Linked DNA regions of Homo sapiens: region 2 is linked to region 1. Evidence: fine-mapped expression QTL. Tissue or cell type: gastroesophageal junction. Region 1 holds a variant in brackets; the other region holds the start of a gene. All regions are shown on one strand. Distances are between the middles of the regions.

Region 1 (10,731 bases):
ATGTTTGACCTTTATACGGTGCTGTGTTTTCAAAGAGAAAGAACACATGGGTTTGGGTACTGCAGTGTGGAAGCAGGAAGATCACAGATGATCCTCTAGGGGGACCTTGTGCTTCCCATAACCACAGCTCTGAGGTTGAGAGAGTTAATATTGCTCTGGGAGCAAAACTAGTTATATCATTGTCCATTTTGTGTACATTGTTTTTCTTTCTTTTCTTTTTTTTTTTTTTTTTGAGGCAGAGTCTCACTCTGTCGCCCAGGCGGGAGTGTGGTGGCACGATCTCGGCTCACTGCAAGCTCCGCCTCCCAGGTTCACGCCATTCTCCTGCCTCAGCCTCCCGAGTAGCTGGGACTACAGGCACCTGCCACCATGCCCAGCTAATTTTTTGTATTTTTAGTACAGATGGGGTTTCACCATGTTAGCCAGGATGGTCTCGATCTCCTGACCTCGTGATCTGCCTGCCTCAGCCTCCCAAAGTGCTGGGATTACAGGCATGAGCCACTGTGCCCGGCCGTGTATGTTGTTCATTTCATTGCCCACATCATTTCACTTGATATGAATGCAAACATTTATGCTTTTTTCTGAATCGGGATATTAAAATGCATTTACTGGATCAGTGGCCATATACCATGTATCTGAGGCTGTATTAATCTCTTCTAGTGGAAATATCACATCTGGCCTAATGGCTGTGATCAGGACTACTACTTAGTTGAGCTTGAAGTTGAATTGCAGTTATGAGTAGTTTTTACTAGAGATATGATGGGAACCATCACTCCTAAATCTTTTATATCCTGAAGGGTGTCTCTAATCTCTACTATCCCCCCAGAGATTGTTCTTATTTACTATCTTGGGTGGATTGTAGTTTGAGGCTTCCACGTGGCCTTTCCTCATGCAATAGTTTTTTTTTCCTGCAAGCAAGGACCTAATAACCACTTGTGATACAGCAGATGTGAGCTGCTTTTTGTGCAGCCAAAGGCCCTCTAACTTTCACAACTGCAATCAATTGTCTATTACTTGTCCTCAACTGTTTGTTATCTTTATGTAGAGCATCAGTGGCTTTCAGCAGTAGCCACTGTATTAGTCCGTTCTCATACTGCTATAAAGAAATACCACAGACTGGGTAATTTATAAAGAAAAAGAGGTTTAATGAACTCACAGTTTCACATGGCTGGGAAGTCCTCACAATGAAGGAGGAGCAAAGACACGTCTTACATGGTGACAGGCAGGAGAGCGTGTACAGAGGAACTGCCCGTATAAAACCATCAGATCTCATGAGATTTATTCACTACCACAAGAACAGCATGGGAAAAACCCACCTCCATGATACAATTACCTTCCCCCAGGTCCCTCCCACGACACGGGGGGATGATGGGAGCTACAACTCAAGATAAGGTTTGGCTGGGGACACAGCCAAAACATATCAGCACCCAAACCTGTTATTTAATAATAATCTATCTCCTAAGTTCAAACATCTGTTACATAACACAGGTGCTTCCTCTTAATTTACTATTGGTGAACTATTTAATGATTGAACCACCTCCTTATGCCGGGGCCTCTTTGTGCTCCACCTGCCACAGTGGTGGGGTTTGTATGTCAGCTGGATAATGAGTAATCCAGTTCCAAAACTTTGGCCCATCCTTTGCTATTTTGGAGCACCTCAATAATGGTACAAGCTGCAATCTGTTGGGTTTTCTGAAAGTTGACTCTGAGATATACTTTGGAGGTATTCACTGTAGATCAGTATCTGTGAAAGGAAAGAGAAGGAAGTAGGATTAAGCAAAAGAAAAGGTTAAACTGCAATGCAGATCCTACAAAACTGCTCCCAACTTAGAATGGATCTCTGTAGTGAGTGTTGCCTGACAGGGCTCATGTGTCAGGCAAGCATGGTCTAGTCTATGTTCACACCTCTTTCAGTCACTGAATACAGCCTGACCTGGAAGGGAGGTGACTTTGGATGAAGCTCTTCTGCAGCAAAGGCTGACCATGAAGGGCTTGACAGGCGAGGGCTGTCTGCTAACTCCCCACACCTGTACTACAAGCCAGGATGGTCTCAATCTCCTGACCTTGTGATCCGCCCGCCTCGGCCTCCCAAAGTGCTGGGATTACAGGCGTGAGCCACCGCACCCGCCCCCTTCCGTACCTTTTAAGTGCCTGGGTCATCACACCAACCAGGTGTTTTTCTCCATTTGGACATTTTCCCAGGTAACTGCCAGTGAAATATGTAGCAGCTGGGCTGCCACGTTTGCCAGAGTCTCTCTGGAATGGGATATTTCTTGTCAGCTCAAAGTAAAATGCAAGCACAAATATTTACCACAGAGGAGTTCCACACTGAGCAGAAATGATGCCAGGCCATCCTATCCCCCATGGTGCTCACGCACTGGCTGGCAGCTGCCTGAAAAGGTCACAGTCTCAAATACTGTGCTAACTCCCAAAAGCAATGAATCCCTCCAGGAGAATGGGAAGTATTTTCTTGAAAGGTATTTGGAGTAATGCACCTGTAAGGATCCCACAATTGAAGGAAGAAAGGCCGGGTGGTGAGTCTTAATTGGCAGAAGCCAGGGATTCACATTTATTATAATAAATAGTAAGGTCAGTGTGACAGCCAAGAGGGTTTGATTCACAGGAACTTGTGAAGATGGTTAGTAAAACATAACTTCCCCAAGGATAAACTAGATAAGACAGGCAACCAGGAAATTTGTTAGTAAACATAGTCCAAGAAGATGAGAATGGGTGAGCAAGAGGCTAAGGGCAGTTGCCTCAGTAAAATGCCATGATCCTTGAACTTGAGCTAATATTCAGATCAGAAAGACACTAAAGAGGTAGGTGGGTCCCCAAGGGGAAAGACCCTATGACACCACGGCAAATATATACTGTGACGACACCTCCAGCCCTTCGTCAAAGACTGATGGGCACTTACTTGGTTCATTATACACTGGGTAAAGGGTAATATCCAGAGATTTTAAAGACTATTATACGCAAAGTCTGAGTTGATACTGATACCAGACTTTCATAGCATTATCATGCCTCCGCCAGCATGAGAGCGTATTTAGGCCTGGTCATACATTTAGGCTTACTGTGGGGCCAATGGTCCCAGTGACCCTGACCCATGCATTACTCATTTGCTTGGTCTTCGAATGTATAATTGGGATTGACATCCTTGGCAGTTGGAGTACTTTCTACATTGGACTATTGGTCTTTGGTTAAAAGCCACTATAGTGGGGAAGGCCAGGTGAAAACCTCTGAATCCCACCCAGAAGGTAAGATCATAAATTAAAAACAATATTGCATTTTGGGGAGAAGAGTTGGAGGGGGTGACAGAGATGAGTGCGACTCGTAAAGACCTAAAGAATGTGGTAGTAGTGCCCCTGGGATATTAACAAATCCTAGGGAATGACTACAGGTGAGCTCAGCCAAGTCCATGTCCCACTTGCAGACATGACATTGTTTCTAAGGCAGATTTAAGTGGCCTTGGGTATGTGGCAGTGGCCTTTGATTTGGAAAACCAATTCTTTTTATTCAATTCAGGAAAAAGGATCAGAAAATGTAGCATTAACATGAGACAGACAATACTGTGCATTCACAGTTTTACCCAGGGCTGTCAGCCATCATAATATAATCTGAATAGACTGAACATTTTATAGAACATCACAGTAATACACATGGCAGCAAAGTCATGTCAGTCAGGCAGGATAGGTAGGAAGTGGCCAGCAGGTTGGAGACACCACATGCATTCTAGAGGACTGGAGACAAACCGTATAAAAATCCAGCAAGTTACCACAAAAGATAGCATGTAAGTCACAGTTTTTCCACACTGCTTTATCAATTCTTGAGGACGTTTTTGTAGATTTTTTCCTACTAATTATATCTATTTATTGACATGAAATTACAGATATGTTCCTACTGATTTTAAAATCTCAGCTGGGCATGCTGGCTCATGCCTGTAATTCTAGCACTTTGGGAGGTCAAGGTGGGAGGATCGCTTGAGTCCAGGAGTTCGAGACCAGCCTGGGCAAAAAAACAAGTGAGACTCCATCTCTACAAAAAATTAAAAAAATTAGCCGGGTGTGGTTGTGCTTGCCTGTAGTCCCAGCTACCTGGGAGGCTGAGGCGGGAGGATTGCTTTAGCCTGAGAGTTTGAGGTTGCAGTGAGCCATGAACACACCACTGAACCTTAGTTGGGTGACAGAGTGAGACCCCATCTCAAAAAAAACCCCAAATTTGGAATCTCTTCTGTATTTGTAGTTATATTGCTTTTTTTCATTAATAATATTTATTTTTTACTTTTATTCTTGTTATATCTTGGCAAAATTTGTTTATTTATTAGCTTTTACAATAAACAAGACTTTGGTTTTATTGATCTATTTGTATCTTTGTTTCTACTTAGCTGATTAGCTGAAAGCTGGACTTGACAGAGGCCAATATTAAGGTAAAATAGAGATGTCAAAAATTTCTTCGCATAAATCTAAGGATTTAAGGAAATATTGTTAATATAGATTTGTCATAAGTAACCCACTCACTCATTCCTCCGATTTTGACCCCCAACAGGGGCCAGAGGACAGTTCTTTCACCATGAGAAATTACTTGGTGAAGGGAGAACCAGCCTCATGTAAAAATGTGGGTATAGTTATGTGTTATAGATACTGTCATTAAAATGAGATTCCTGATGTCAAAGGGGATGATAGGTTCTGCAATGGAACAGTTCTCAGCAGAATTTACTCACAAGGAGCAAGACAGGCATGGTTAGTGCAGGAGGTTCATGGTCATAATGGTGATGAGAATTGTTAAACCTACATAAACCTTTGGAAGTGGTTAACTGATCAGGGATCTTAAAGGCCAAAATAGATGAACAGCTTGTGAATGTCTTACCTTATTTTGAGAACCCAAAATATAGAAGAAACAAGGTATCTTTGAAAATGGACCTTGCAGTTGCATCACAAGCACACACTGTACAACTTGGGATCCATCAAGAGGCCTATTTGTTAGAATAGAATTTCCAAGTGTGTTCTATGCTGCTTTCCAAATCCAACGAGGTCTACCAAGCATTTTATCTCTGCATGTGTGGGGTACAAATAGCAATAACTTGCCTTTTCCCTTAAAGGGATGTCTTAGCATTCCTCCATTCACTGAACTAAAAACTTCATAAATGTCAGGCCCTTAAATCTTCGAGCACATATATGTATTATTAGGCCACTTTCGGTACTTGCTACTTCTTACATAAAAATTACAGATCTGGGCCGGGCGCGGTGGCTCATGCCTGTAATCCCAGCACTTTTGGAGGCTGAGGCGGGCGGATCATGAGGTCAGGAGATCGAGACCATCCTGGCTAACACGGTGAAATCCCGTCTCTACTAAAAAAAAAAATACAAAAAATTTGCCGGGCATGGTGGTGGGCACCTGTAGTCCCAGCTACTCGGGAGGCTGAGGCAGGAGAATGGCGTGAACCTGGGAGGCAGAGCTTGCAGTGAGCTGAGATCACGCCACTGCACTCCAGCCTGGGCGACAGAGCAAGACTCTGCCTCAAAAAAAAAAATTTCAGATCTGTTCTCCACAGGGCCCACGCACCATCTCTGGTTCAACTGTTGCTTTCTGTGGGGTCAGACACGCTGTGTTTTAAATATTCCTTTAACAAATTTTAGTCTGTTTATTTGCTTTGCTTTTTTTTTCTTCTCAGATAGGGTCTCACTCTGTCATCCAGGCTGGAGTGCAGTGGAGCTCTGGTTCACTGCAGCCTCGACATCCCAGGCTCAGGTGATCCTCCCACCTCAGCCTCCCGAATAGCTGGGTTACAGGTGCACACCACCATGCC[C/G]GAATAACTTTTAGTAGAGATGAGTTTCACCATGTTTCCCAGGCTGGTCTCTAAGTCTTGGGTGCAAGCAATCTGCCTGCCTTGGCTTCCCAAAGTGCTGGGATTACAGGCTTGAGCCACTGCTATCAATTCTTGTTATTTCTTCAAAACATTTAGAATTTTTATTGATATAATTTGCATAGAGCCAGGCATGGTGGCTCATGCCTGTAATCCCAGCACTTTGCAAGGCTGAGGCAGATGGATCACTTGAGGCCAGGAATTCAAGACCAGCCTGGCCAACATGGTGAAACCACGTCTCTACTATAAATACAAAAAATTAGCTGGCCATGTGGCAGGTGCCTGTAATCCCAGCTACTCAGGAGGCTGAGGCAGGAGAATCACTTGAACCCAGGAAGTGGAGGTTGCAGTGAGCCGAGATTGTGCCACGGCACTCCAGCCTGGGTGACAGAGCGAGACTCTGTCTCAAAAAAAATTGCATACAAATAAGTATACTTACTTTTCTTTTTTTTCTTTAGAGATTGGGTCTCGCTATGTTTCCTAGGTTGGACTTGAACTCCTATGCTGAAGTGATTGTCCTGCCTCAGCCTGCCTAGTAGTTGGAACTAAGGTGCACACCCCACCACATCTGGCTAAGTGTACATATTTCTAATGTATAGTTCAAGTTCTATGAGCTTTGAAAAATGTCTTTGGCTGTGCAACCACAGCTCCTGTCAAGATGTAGAACATTTCCTTTACTCCAAAATATTCCCTTGTTTCTCTTCCCGGTCAAATCTCACTCCCATCACTGACCCCAGGTAACCACCAATCTCCCTTCTAATACTATAGATTATTTTTATCTTTTCTATAATTTTATATAAATGGAAATTATGCAAAAAGTATTTGTTTTTGTGTGGTTACTTCCACTCTGGTGTTTTTGGGATTTGTGCGTGTTGTGTGGGCATCAGCGGTTTGTTTCTTTTTATTGCTGATTATTCCTTTGTATGAATATACCCAGTTGTCTGTCTGTGCACCTGTTGGTGGACATTTGGGTTGTTTCAGATTTTCGGCTATGAAGAATAAAGCTGAGATACCACATTACACCCATCATAATGGCTAAACAAAACACTGCCAATACCAAGTGCTGGCAATAATGTGGAGGAACCAGAACTCTCAGACGTTGCTAGTGGGAATTAAAAAAAAAAAAACACTTTGGAAAACAGTTTGGCAGTTTCTTAAAAGTTAAATATATGCTGGCCATATGATTCAGCAATTCTACTCTTCTGTATTTACCAAGGAAAATGAAAACATGTGTCTCCAAAGACTTATACACTAGTGTTCACAATATCATTTTAAGAAATGTTTAGGCTGATCTCTTCTGATCTCTGCTGCTGAAGCTATAAACTGAGGATCAGAGAAAAGGAGAAAATGAGTCATTAAAAGAACCTTGAGGGGGATATATATATACTTATTCTTATATCTATATCTCTCTATATACAGATCTTATATATATAATATAGAGAGATCATATATATATATCCTTATTCTTAAAAATACATCCAGAGATGACTTCATGTGGCAGAGCCCTATTGAAGAGAAGCATCCTCTATGTGTTCTCTAGGCTACTGAAAACAATTTGATTTTAAAATTCAGTTTAATTTAATTTTTTTGGGGGGGGCATGGAGTTTCGCTCTTGTTGCCCAGGCTGGAGTGCAATGGCACGATCTCGGCTCACCGCAACCTCCGCCTCCTGGTTTCAAGTGATTCTCCTGCCTCAGCCTCCTGAGTAGCTGGGAGTACAGGCATGCACTACCATGCCCGGCTAATTTTGTATTTTTAGTAGAGACAGGGTTTCTTCATGTTAGCCAGGCTGGTCTCAAACTCCCAACCTCTGGTGATCCGCCCGCCTCAACCTCCCAAAGTGCTGGGATTACAGGCGTGAGCCACCGCACCCAGCCAATTTAATTATTAGAGATAGGGTCTCACTCTGTCACCCAGGCTAGAATGCAGTGGTACGATCATAGCTCACTGCAGCCTTCAACTCCTGTGTTGAAGTGATCCTGCTGGCTCAGCCTCCCAAGTAGTTAGAACTACAGATGCACACTACCATGTCTGGCTAATTATTTTTTGTAGAGATGGGGATCTCGCTATGTTGCCCAGGTTGGTCTTGAACTCCTGGCCTCAAGTGATTCTCCTGCCTTGGCCTCTCAAACTGCTGGGATTACAGGAATGAGCCACTATGTCCAGCTCAAAGCACGTTTTATCCAATACATGTTGTTTGGACCTACAACCAAGCAGTTTGTACAAAATAATAATGTTGCATCCCTATATCACACTAAAAAAGACAAATGCCAGAAAGGATAATTCTACAATTGGCACATAAGAAACAGTACAGTAGCTCACACCTGTAGTCCCAGCACTTTAGGAGGCCAAGGTGGGAGGATTGCTTGAGCCCAGGAATTGATATCAGCCTGGGCAACATAGGGAGACCCTGTCCCTACAAAAAATAAAAATTAGCTGGGCAAGGTGGCATAGGCCTGTAGTTCCAGCTACTTGGGAGGCTGAGGTAGGAGGATCACTTGAGTCTGGGAGGTTGAGGCAGCAGTTAGCCATGATTGCACCACTGCACTCCAACCTAGGTGACAGAGTGAGACCCTGTCTCAAAAAAAGTAAAAACATTATATATAGTTATATTAATATCTATAATGTGGGTGAAAAAAATGTTAAAACATACACTAAGGAGAATAACTATAAAACATAGATTTCACTTGCATAAAACTTAAGGTTATAGAAAGTAAAACTGTCTCCTGTAAGTCTTTATTGGCTAATTTATGAAAAATGTATACAATGAAACTGTGCACAGACGTTTACAAAAAAAATTGAATATACTAATTCAAAACATATTTTATGAACCTTTACCTACCATGTACTACCTATAATGTTCCACGCAATAGGGTGAAAGTCAGTAAGAAAAGATTTCTTCTGTCACAGAGTTTATATTTTAACAAGAGACATATATATATATATGTAAATATGTACATATATGTATATAAAAGTGTATGTATATATACATACACTTTTTAATTATATATACATACTTTTAAATATTTGAATAAATGCTATGATAAAACAAAACAGGGTAATATGATACAGATTGATTTAAATGTGAGGAAAACTGCAACTGGTAGTTTTTTAAAAATCTTATTCAAGCTTATTTAATTTTTAATTTTTTTTTTGAGACGGAGTCTTGCTCTGTCACCCAGGCTGGAGTGCAATGGCACGATCTTAGCTCACAGCAACCTCCGCCTCCCAGGTTCAAGCAGTTCTCCCACCTCGGCCTCCCGAGTAGCTGGGACTACAGGTGTGCACCACCACACCCGGCTAATTTTTGTATTTTTAGTAGAGACGGGGTTTCATCACATTGGCCAGACTGCTCTACAACTCCTGAGTTCAAGTGATCCACCCATCTCAGCCTCCCAAAGTGCCAGGATTACAGGCGTGAGCCACCATGCCCGGCCTTAATTTTTAAATTTTAAATTTAATTTTATTTTAGATTCAGGGAGTACTTGGTGCATGTTTGTTACCTGGGTATATTGCATTCTGGTGGAGATTGGGCTTCTAGCATAGCCATTACCGAAATGGTGAACATATAATTGGTAGTTTAATAGGTCTTTTTAAGAAGGTGAATTTGAGTGGAAATACTAGTGTTCTAGCAGAGAGGAGTAACTCGTGAGAATTATCTTAGTATATTTAAGAAACAGAAAGAAGAAAAAACAAGAATTTACAGTATACTCACAGTGATATATACTTGTGTGTCTGTGTGTTTCCTATTTTTATACATAAGCATTATGTGGGACTTTTATTTTTTATACATAAGCGTTATGTGGGACTTTTATTTTTTATACATAAGCATTATGTGGGACTTCTATTTTTTATTTTCTGTTTCTTCCTTCTGCTTATTACTGTTTTTCCATTTTCTTGCTTTCCTGTGGGCTACTTGAACTTATTTTAGAATTCCAGTTTTTAGCTATTGAAAGTATTTTTGAATATAGCTTTGTGGTTTCAATAGGTAGTATGATATATATGCCTAATGTCACAATCTACAGGTATTGATATGTTACAACTTTGACTAAAGTGTAAAAACCTCTCTTCCATTTAGGTCCCTTTACTCTTCTTCTTGCTGTTAGAGACAGGGTCTCACTATGTTGCCCAGGCTGGTCTCAAACTCCTGGCCCCAAGCAAGCCTCCCACCTCAGCCTCCCAAAGTGCTGGGATTGCAGGTGTGAGCCACTGCACCTGGCCCTTTCACTCTTTACTATAATTGTCTTAAGTCTTTCCTCTATATACATTTAAGTCTCACATCAGATGATGTTAAAATTTTTGCTTCAACCATTGAGCATGATTTTAAAAACTCACGAGAAAGGTAGTCTGTTACATTTACCCCAATTTTAACCCACTCCACAGTTTTTTCTGTCTTTTCGAAGTTCCAGCCTATTACCTTTTCAGTCAGAGATGCTCTGTGAGTCAGTCTTGAAGGGCAGTCAACCAATTATTATTTTGCTTCATCTGAAATGCTTTTATTTCTTCTTAATTCCTGAAAGGTATTTTTGGTAGATATAGAATTAGAGGTTGACAAATCTTTCAAGCACTTGGAAAATGTGCCACCTCCCTCTGGCCTCCGTGGTTTCAGATGACAAAGCTACCGTCATTCAAATTGTTGTTACCACATAGGGAATATATTGTTTCTCTCTTAACACTGAATATAATCACAATGGAATTTCAAATAAATTTTGCTAAAGGAGTTTGGCAAGATTATTTTAAAATTTATCTACAGCCAGGTGTGATAGCTCATGCCAGTAATCCCAGCACGTTGGGAAGCCGAGGCTGGAGGATTGCTTGAGCCCAGGAGGTAGAGTTTGCAGTGAGCCATGATTGCACCACTGTACTCC
Region 2 (10,731 bases), 110 kb after region 1:
GGATATAATAATTCTAAATGTATATGCACCCAACACCAGAGCACCCATATTCCTAAAACAAATATTTCTAGTTCTAAGGAAAGAGATAGACAGCAATACAATAGTAGTGGGGGACCTCAACACCCACTCAGAGCAGTAGACACATCATCAAGACAGAAAATCAACAAAGAAACATTGGACTTAAATTGGACTTCAAACCAAGCAAACCTAACAGATATTTATGGAATATTCTACTCAACAACTGCAGAATATACACTTTTCCCATCAGCACATGGAACATTCTCCAAGATAGACCATATGTTAGGCCACAAGGCAAGTCTCAACAAATTTTTAAAAATCAAAATCATATCAATTATCTTCTCAGACTGCAGGGGAATAAAGTAGAAATCAACAACAAGAGGAACTTTCGAAACCATACAAATATGTAGAAATTAACTATATGCTCCTGAATGATCACTGGGTCAGTGAAAAAATTAAGATTATAATTTAAAAGTTTTTTGAAACAAATGAAAATGGAAATACAACATATCAAAACCTATAGGATTCAGCAAAAGCAGTGCTAAGAGGGAAGTGGATAGCATTAAATGCCCATATCAAAAAAGCAGAAAGATTACAAATTAACAACCTAACATTACTTCTCAAGGAACTAGAAAAATAAGAACAAACCAAACCCAGAGTTACCAGAAGAAAATAAATAACAAAGGTCAAAGTAAAACTAAATGAAATAGAGACAAAAATGGATACAATATAATGGACCAATAAAACCAAAAATTGGTTCTTTGAAAGGAAAAAACCCTAAAACTGACAACTACTAGGTAGACTAACCAAGAAAAGGATAGAATATCCAAATACACAAAATCAGAAATGAAAAAGAAGACATTACAACTGATACCACAAAAATACAAAAGATCATTAGAGACCATTATGAACAATTATATACTAACAAACTATAAAACCTAGATTATAAGGATAAATTCCTGGAAAATACAACCTCCCAAGATTGAAACATGAACAAAGAAAAACCCTGAACAGACCAATAATAAGGAGCAAGATTGAATCAATAATAAAATATCTCCCCCACCAAAAAAGCCTAGGGTGAAATCGATTCACAGCCGAATTCTACCAAATGTACAAAGAACTAATACCAATTCCCCTAAAGCTGTTTCAAAAAATTGAGGAGGAGGGAATTATTCTTCCTACCTCATTCTACAAGGCCCTATGTTACCCTGATTCCTAAACCAAGGACACAACAAAAAAAAGAAAACTATAGACCAATATCCCTCAAGAACACAGATGCAAAAATCCTTAACTATATACTAGCAAGCTGAATTTAACAGCACATGAAAATGATAATACACATGATCAAGTGAGTGTTATACTAGGGATGCAGGGATGGTTCAACATACACAAATCAGCAAATGTGATGCACTGCATAAACCTAATTAAGGACAAAACCCACACGATCATCTCAATAGATGCAGAGAAAACATTTAATAAAATTCAGCATCCCTTCATGATAAAAATCCTCAAGAAACTAGGCATAGAAGGAACATACTAAAAAATAGTAAAGGCCACATATGACAAATTCACAGCCAACATCATACTGATGAGAGAAAAGTTGAAAACATTCCAAGAACTGGAACAAGACAAGAATGCCCACTTACACTACTGCTATTTAACATAGTACTGCAAGTTCTAGCCAGAGCAATCAGGCAAGAGAAATAAAAGGCATCTGAATTGGAAAACAGGAAGTCAAATTGTCCCTGTTTGCAAATGATATAATCTTATATCTAGAAAAACCTAAAGATGCCACTGAAAAAGTATTAGATTTGATAAATGAATTCAGGAAAGCTTCAGTATTCAAAATCAAAACAAAAAATCAGTAGCATTTCTGTACCCTAACAACATCTAGCTAAGAACAAAATCAAGAAGGCAATTCTACTTTTAATAGCTACAAAAAGCTCACCTCAGAATACATTTAACCAAAGAGGTGAAAACTCTCTACAAGGAAAGTTACAAAATACTGATGATAGAAATTGTAGATGATATAAACAAATGGAAAAACATCCCATGCTGTTCAGAGGAATTAATAATGTTACAATTATCATACTATCCAAAGCCATCTACAGATTCAATGCACTCCCTATCAAAATATCAACGTCATTCTCCACAGATTTAGAGAAAAAAAATCCTAGGCCGGGTGCGGTGGCTCACAGCTGTAATCCCAGCACTATGGGAGGCCAAGATGGGCATATCATGAGGTCAGGAGTTCAAGACCACCCTGGCCAACATGGTGAAAACCCATCTCTACTAAAAATACAAAAATTAGCCGGGCATGGTGGTGCACACGCGTAATCCCAGCTACTCTGGAGGCTGAGGCAGGAGAATTGCTTGAACCTGGGAGGCAGAGGTTGCAGTGAGCCGAGATCATGACCCTGCACTCCAGCCTGGGTGACAGAGTGAGACTCTGTGTAAAAAAAAAAAAAAAAAAAAAAAAAGAGAAAAGAAAAAGAAAAAGAAAAAAAATCCTAAAATTCATATGCAACCGAGAAAGAGCTCAAACAGCCAAAGCAATCCTGAACAAAAAGAACAAAGCTGGAGGCATAACTTCACCTGACTTCAAATTATACTATAAGGCTATAATAACCAAAACAGCATAGTACTGGTATAAAAACAGACACATAGGTCAATGGAACAGATAGAGATCCCAGAAATAAAGCCACATATCTACAGCCAACTGATCTTTGACAAAGTCAACAAGAACAAGCATGGGGAAAATACAACCTCTTCAATAAATGGTGCTGGGAAAATTGGATTGCCATATGCAGAAGAATGAAACTTGACCCTTATCTCTCGCCATATACAAAAATCAACTCAAGCTGTATTAAAGACTTAAATGGAATACCTGAAACTATAAACATACTAGAAGAAAACCTACGGAAAACCCCTCTGGACATTGGTCTGGGTAAATAATTCATGACTAAGACCTCAAAAGCACATGCAACAAACAGAAAAAGAGAGAAATGGGACTTAAACTAAAAATCTTCTTCATAGTGAAATAAACAGTAAGCAGAGTGAAGAGACACTTGCAGAATGGGAGAAAATTTTTGCAAGCTTTGCATACAAGAGGGGACTAATATCTAGAGTTTACAGGGAACTCAAACAGATCAACAACAACAACGAAACCCAAATAATCCCATTAAGAAGCAGGCAAAGAACACAAATAACACTTTACAAAAGAAGACATACAAATGGCCAACAGGCATATGAAAATATGCTCAACATCATCACTAAACATCAGAGAAATGCAAATTTAAACCACAATGAGGCCGGGCGCTGTGGCTCACGCCTGTAATCCCAGCAGTTTGGGAGGCCGAGGTGAGCAGATCACCTGAGATCAGGAGTTCAAGACCAGTCTGGCTAACATGGCGAAACCACGTCTCTCATAAAAAATACAAAAATTAGCCGGGCATGGTGGTGGGCACCTGTAATCCCAGCTACTTGGGAGGCTGAGGCGGGGAGAATTGCTTGAACCCAGGAGGCGGAGGTTGCAGTGAGCCGAGATCAAGCCACTGCACTCCAGCCTGGGCGACAGAGCGAGGTTGTGGGGGAAAAAAAAGAGATATTATCTTACATCAGTCACAGTAGCTGTTATTAAAAAGACAGGCCGGGCCGGGTGCGGTGGCTCACGCCTGTAATCCCAGCACTTTGGGAGGCCGAGGCGGGCAGATCACGAGATCAGGAGATTAAGACCATCCTGGCTAACACGGCGAAACCCCGTCTCTACTAAAAAATACAAAAAAGTAGCCAGGCGTGGTGGCGGGCCCCTGTAGTCCCAGCTACTTGGGAGGCTGAGGCAGGAGAATGGCGTGAACCCGGGAGGCGGAGCTTGCAGTGAGCCCAGATCGCGCCACTGCACTCCAGCCTGGGCGACAGAGCGAGACTCCGTCTCAAAAGGAAAAAAAAATCAAAACAAACAAAAACAGGCCGAGCTCGGTGGCTCATGCCTGTAATCCCAGCACTTTGGTAAACTGAGGTGACCGGATCACCTAAGGTCGGGAGTTTGCGACCAGCCTGACCAACATGGAGAAACCTGTCTCCACTAAAAATACAAAATTAGCCGGGTGTGGTGGTGCATGCCTGTAATCCCAGCTACTCAGGAGGCTGAGGCAGGAGAATTGCTTGAACCTGGGCGGAGGTTGCGGTGAGCCGAGATCGGGCCACTGCACTCTAGCCTGGGTAACAAGAGCAAAACTCCGTCTCAAAAAATAAAATAAAATAATAAAAATAAAAAGACAAAGAAGATGTTGGTGAGGATGTGGAGAAAAGGAAACTCCTATACACTGTTGGTGAGAAAGTGAAATTAGTATAACCTATGGAAAACAGTGTGGAGAATTCTCAAAGAACTAAAAATAGAATTACCATTTGATAAAGCAATCCTGTTACTGAGTATCTACCCAAAGGAAATCATTATATATATAAAAAAAATACCTGCACTCATATGTTTATCACAGCACTATTCACAATATCACAGGTATGGAATTAACCTAAATGTCCATGAATGGATGAATAAAGAAAATGTGTTATATATACACAATGGAATACTATTCAGCCATAAGAAAGAATGAAATTGTCTTTTGCAGCATCATGGATGGAACTAGTGGCCACTATCTTCAGTGAAACAACTCAGGCACAGAAAGAAAAACACATGTTTTCACTTTAAGTATGAGCTAAAGGATATGTACACATGGATGTAGAGTGTGGGATGATAGACAATGAAGACTCAAAAGGTGTGGGGGGGTTTCAGGGATAATCATAAATTACCTGACTGGTACAATGCATATAACGTACTATAGGGCGTGGATACCTTAAAAGCCTTGACATCACCACTACACAACTGATGCATGTAACAAAATTACACTTGTACCTCATAAATTTATAAAAGTTTTTAAAAGCCAAAAACAAAAGAATTCTAGAAAACTTGTATCTGCCTCTGTGAATGTCACCTCTTCCCAATACTTAAGATCAATAATGATTAGTGGATATTTTCCGTTGGTGCAAAAGTAAGTAATTGCGGCTTTTGCCATTAAAGTAAACCAATATTTTCCAACTGGCCAATACATGATGTTACGAAATCATGCGTGATAAAAGAATCCATTCAAAGTGCAGTGTAGACCAACGGATTTTATGTAATAGAGTAGAAAAAGTTCATCTACGTGGTTTCAGATTGTACACTAACAAAACTATCCCTTGTTCGACTTGTATCTTTATATACTTTAACAAAAACAACATACGCAACAGATTAAACATAGAAGCAGATATGAGAATCCAGCTTTCTAGTAAGTCAGAAAAGACTTAAAAAGCGAAGCCACTCCTTACTAAATTTTTTCTTTTGTAAAATATATGTAATTTTCATTAAAATATTATTTATGTTAACATGTAATGGGAATTTTACGAATCTGTTATTAAAGTGTAAAGCAAAATAAGACTTTTACCATTTCAGTAAAGCAGGGACTAGAACACTTGTAACCTAATTTACATCCCTCCAACCGTTGAGCCATTGGTGTCAAGTATTTTAATTCTCTTTAAAATTTAAAACCTGCAAGCGCGGGAGCTCAGGGACCTGGCCAGGAAGGCCTGAGCTTCCGGGTCATCTTAGCACGCCCCCTCCCGGTGGCCCTTGGCCGGAGCCCTCCGGCGCGGGAGTAACTCCTCGCAGAGGCCTCTGGGAGTTGTAGTTTTTTTGCCTTTGCCTCTCCATGACGCAATTCCTGTGCGACATACGTAGCGGCCGCCATTGTTCCGCGCCGATGGCGAGATCCTTGTTCCTCAGATAGCGTTCATCGCCCGTCGTGGTCAACGGGCCAGCCGAGTCTGGAGTGGTTGCGAACCCTTCTGGCTGCAGATCTGGAGGTGGAGGCAGTACCCTGGACTCTATTCTGCTGCCCCTTCAGGGTTTGGAGGAGCCGGAGGTGCGGAATTCCTCCGGTTTCAAGGCGGCGGGACGGGACAGAACTAATCTGCCTTAGCTCTCTCCTGCTGCTGACCCGGGGCGGTTGCCTGACCCTAACCTGTGTGTTGGTGAGGGTGTGGAGATGGTGAATCCCGTGCTGTGGGAGGGAAGGAGCCTCAGCTCCGAGAATGGCAGGCAGCCCTGGTGCCTCGGACCCTCCCCCTCTGGGTTTGGGGACTGCTGGGTGACCTCTTTCTTCACTGTGCTCTCTCTTCTAGCATCCCTCGCGTCCTGTCACTTCCAGCGAGGCACACAAAACTGACCGTAGGGATGGCCACCAGGGTCCGGACAGCTTCTATTTGGGTGAGTAGGGGTTTTCTTTCATTCTTGAAAAGCTCTCCCTGAATGCCAACGTGTGCGCACTCCATCTACTCCAGTCTGAATTTGCCAGGAGCTTTCTCACCCCACCGCTCTTTTAGGCAACTGGATCGTCATTTATAGCATGTTAGACTTTCCAGAAATGCTTCTTGTCATCCGACTTCCTTTTTTCCTCCTTTCATCAATCTCTTTTCTAACAACTTTGTACGCTGAACTTTGGAGTTAAACAAGGGATACTCACACATCTTTCAGTTTTTTCAGCCTTTATTTACTGAGGGCCTTCTGTATCTGGGATCTTTAAACCTTATTTTGGAAATTACAAACTTTTTTATTCACTTGTTCAACATTTTTTTTTATTGTATTTTGTTTGCTGGACCCTGGGGCAGGTGCTAAAAATGCAAAGATGGGTTGCTTATCATCCCTGTCTTGAAGAACAGTGGTCTAGGAATGGTGGATAAGAAAGACAATGACAAGTTAATGAGTGCTCTGGGAGCAGGCTGTGGAAATACACGGAGACATGCAGGAATGGGTCAGTTTTGGAAGTAAGGACACCCCCTAACCCCTTACTCCCAAATGCTTCAATGATTAAGAGATTCTTAACCTTAGGTTTGAAAGATGACAAACCTAAAGTAGACAAAGGATTAAAACCAGCCTAGGAAAAAGAAGTAACGTGCAAATTTGAGAGGCTTGAAATGACCTCATGTGGTGAACTTTGGGCACTTTAGGGTTGCTAAAATGTTGAGTTTAATGGTGATAGTAGAGTTATATTAAAAAATGAGGCTAGAGCCGTAGGCCTAAGATCATAGAGGGCTTTGAGGACCCCATTAAAAACTTGGATTGTATCACATAGGGCAGGTGGTCCCCAACCCCCACGCTTCAGACTGGTACCAGTCTGTGGTCTGTTAGGAACTGGGGTGCATGGCAGGAGGCGAGTGGCGGTTTAGTGAGCATGACTGCCGGAGCCCCGCCTCCTATCAGAGGCTGCATTAGCTTTTCATAGCACAAACCCTATTGTGAACTGCGCATGCGAAAGATCTAGGTTGCGCACTTCTTATGGGACTCTAATGCCTGATGATCTGAAGTGGAACAGTTTCATCCAGAAGCCATCGCCGCACCCGACTGCCCGTCCATGGAAAAATTGTCCTCCACAAAACGAGTCCCTGGTTGGGGACTGTTGGTATAGGGGAAGGAGTTTACTTATTGAAGTGTTTTCACAACGGATTTGAGGGTAGAACAGTCTAGTCTGCAGCAGGTAAGAGAATATAAGGGTTTAAGTAAATTAGTGGTTTTGAGAAAGGAGAGGAGGTGGCTGGGTGCAGTGGCTCCCACCTGTAATCCCTGTTACTCGGGAGGCTGAGACAGGAGAATCGCTTGAACCCAGGAGGCAGAGGTTGCAGTCAGCCGAGATCGCGCCACTGCACTCCAGCCTGGGTGACAGAGCAAGACTCTGTCTCAAAAAAAAAAAAAGGAGAGGAGGTAAAGAGGCAGAAGAAATTAGATTTCATAACTAGTTGGGTGCAGTGCTAAGAGAGGCAGAAAAGCCAGGGATGACAACTGGAGTTCTACTCTGTGGGCCTGGTTGGGAGTGTCACCATTTGCTGAGTAAGGGAAGACTGTCAGAATTGTGATTGGTAGAGGGGGAAGATTTCAGTTTTGTATGGATTGGCTCCTCTAGGTAGAGGTTGCAAATTAGGTGTGGCCAAAGTAGCTCAGGGAGAATGTGTACCCTAAGAAGAGAACTGAGGACAGTGGTCAGGGAAATGACAAGAGAAAGCAGGGGAAGAGGTGTTGAAGACTGAGATGGAACCCAAGAAAAGTAAGACAAAATAGAGACATGTAATTCACACTTAAAGAAATGGAAACCTCAAAAATGCTTGTCAAGTGACATGTATGAGGGAGATCAAGTAATATTAGATCATTGTCTTAGTCTGTTTGTGCTACTGTAACAAAATATCACAGACTGAGGAACTTATAACAGATACTACTTTCTCACAATTCTGGAGGCTGACAAGTTGAAGATCAAGGTGCTGGTGAATTTGGTATCTGATGAGGCCTGCTTTCTTGTTTTCTTTTTTTTTTTGGAGACAGTCTCTCTCTGTCCCCAGGCTGGAGTGCGGTGGCGCGATCTTGGCTCACTGCAACCTCTGCCTCCCGGGTTCAAGTGATTCCCCTGCCTCAGCCTCCCAAATAGGACTACAGGCGTGTGCCACCACGCCCAGCTAATTTTTTTTTTGTATTTTTAGTAGAGACGTGGTTTCATTGTGTTGGCCACAATGACCTCGATCTCCTGACCTCATGATCCACCTGTCTCAGCCTCCCAAAGTGCTGGGATTACAGGCGTGAGCCACCGCACCCGGCTCTGCTCTCTGCTTTCAAGATGGCACTTTCTTGCTACATCCTTACATGGTGGAAGGGGGCAAAAAGGGAAGAATGCTGTGTCCTCACATGGCCAAAGAGATGAAAGGGCCAGGCAGCTCTCTGAAACCTCTTTAAGAGGGTATTAATCCCATTCCTGAAGGAGAGCCGTCATGACTTAATCACTATTAAAAGGCCGCACCTCTTTATTTATTTATTTATTTGTTTATTTTTTTGAGACTGAGTCTCGCTCTGTCTTCCAGGCTGGAGTGCAGTGGCTATCTCTGCTCACCACAACGTCTGCTTCCCGAGTTCAAGTGGTTCTCTTGCCTCAGCCTCCTGAGTAGCTGGGATTACAGGTGCGCACCACCATGCCCAGCTAATTGGCCCCACCTCTTAATACCATCACAATGGGGGTTAAGTTTCAACATGAATTTTGGAGGGATGCAATCATTGAAACCGTAGCAGTCATAAAAACCTAAATGGAATTTAGTGGTGATGGGCTGTGTGTGGTGGGTCACGCCTGTAGTCCCAGCACTTTGGGAGGCCAAGGTGGGCAGATCATCTGAGGTCAGGAGTTCGAGACCAGCCTGGCCAACATGGCGAAACCTCGTCTCTACTAAAAATATGAAAATTAGCTGGGCGTGATGGTGGGCACCTGTAATCCCAGCTACACGGGAGGCTGAGGCAGAAAAATCGCTTGAACCCCAGGAGTAGGAGGTTGCAGTGAGCCAAGATCACGCCACTGCACTCCAATCTGGCGACAGAGTGAGACTCTGTCTCAAAAAAAAAAAAAAAAACAAAGAATGTGTGGTGGCTACTTTAGCTTGGGTGCTCAGGGAAGGCCCCCACTGAGGAAGTGACGTCTAAGCTAAGTCTGAGTTACAATAGCAAGCCAGCCTTGGGAAGAGCAGGTAGAAGAACATCCAGGATGGGAACAGCCAGGGCCAAGGCTGCGAGGCAAGAGAAGTTTGATGCCTTGGTAACCTGGAAGGAAGGACTTTGTGACTGGGGTAGGGAGTGAGAGAGAGGAGAGCAGATGAACACAGGTGCAGAGGCCAGATCAGGGAGTGAGAGAGAGGAGAGCAGATGAACAGAGGTGCAGAGGCCAGATCAGGTAACCTGGAAGGAAGGACTTTGTGACTGGGGGTAGGGAGTGAGAGAGAGGAGAGCAGATGAACACAGGTGCAGAGGCCAGATCAGGCTGGGAAGCCATGGGGCCCGGGAGAGTGTGTGGCGCTAAGACAGGGAGCAACGTGAGCTGCTTAGGGTTTCCAAAGACCCTTCTGAGTGCTGAGTGGGGGACAGGTTGTAGGTGGGCAAGAGTAGGCACAGAAAGAGGGGGAAGCCAGAGACTGACTAGGTGACCACGTTCAGACAAGAGGTAGCAGGGATTTTGTGTAGTGTGGTAGAAATGGAGACACTGGTCAGAGTTGGGGGATGTTTGAAGGTGGAGTCCTCTTTTCTAAGAACCAGCATATGCTTTTTATCTTGTTGATTGTCATTTTGTAGTGTGGTTTATTTTCATTAAGTATTCCTGGTTTTATGTTTTGTTTTGTTTTCTTTTGCCGTTTCAACCAAATGTTAATGCTCAGTGTCTACTACGTATGAGGTTCTGTGCTAAATCATTTATTAGGTATTATCACCTTAAAACTTCACAGTAGCCCTAGCCCCAGGTGGTGAATACTGTTTTTCTCCTTTGATGGGTAAGGGTACTGAGGTCCAGAAAGGGCTAGTTGGAGACCAGGTGGCACCCCTGGTCAATGTAGAGCCAGGACTTGAACCCAGATATTCTGGCTCTACATGCATTTTCCTGGCCTGTGTACCTTATTTAGTCTCTGGATGTAGGTTGAGGATTTCTTGAGGCAGAGATTCTAGGATCCTAGACCCTGAAATGTAGAGTAAAATGTGGAGCGGGTAGACTGTGCCCAGTGTACACAGAGAAGGCTCTGAGACATAAGCTGTTGGTCTCCAGGGAATAATCTTTTTTTTTTTTTTTGGAGATGGAGTCTCACTCTGTTGCCCAGGCTGGAGTACAGTGGCAC

What was found. PIP is the estimated chance that this variant, and not a neighbour inherited with it, causes the effect.
Region 2: ZNF268 starts here. The variant in region 1 is fine-mapped to the expression of ZNF268 in gastroesophageal junction (GTEx, PIP above 0.99). The same link has a PIP of 0.9 or more in esophagus mucosa, left ventricle, prefrontal cortex, stomach, transverse colon and visceral fat.

The regions. Positions count from the first base shown.
Region 1 is chr12:133,064,366-133,075,096 of GRCh38, forward strand. No RefSeq gene overlaps it. Among named protein-coding and RNA genes, the nearest start is that of ZNF140, 11 kb to the right of the region's middle. The variant C/G (reference allele first, on the strand shown) is at 5,807.
Region 2 is chr12:133,175,715-133,186,445 of GRCh38, forward strand. ZNF268 (zinc finger protein 268) reads left to right here and starts at 5,781. Exons shown (of 6, transcript NM_003415.3): 1 at 5,781-5,972; 2 at 6,232-6,316. The coding sequence starts at 6,284. RefSeq lists enhancers at 5,499-6,023, 5,619-5,928, 5,969-6,168.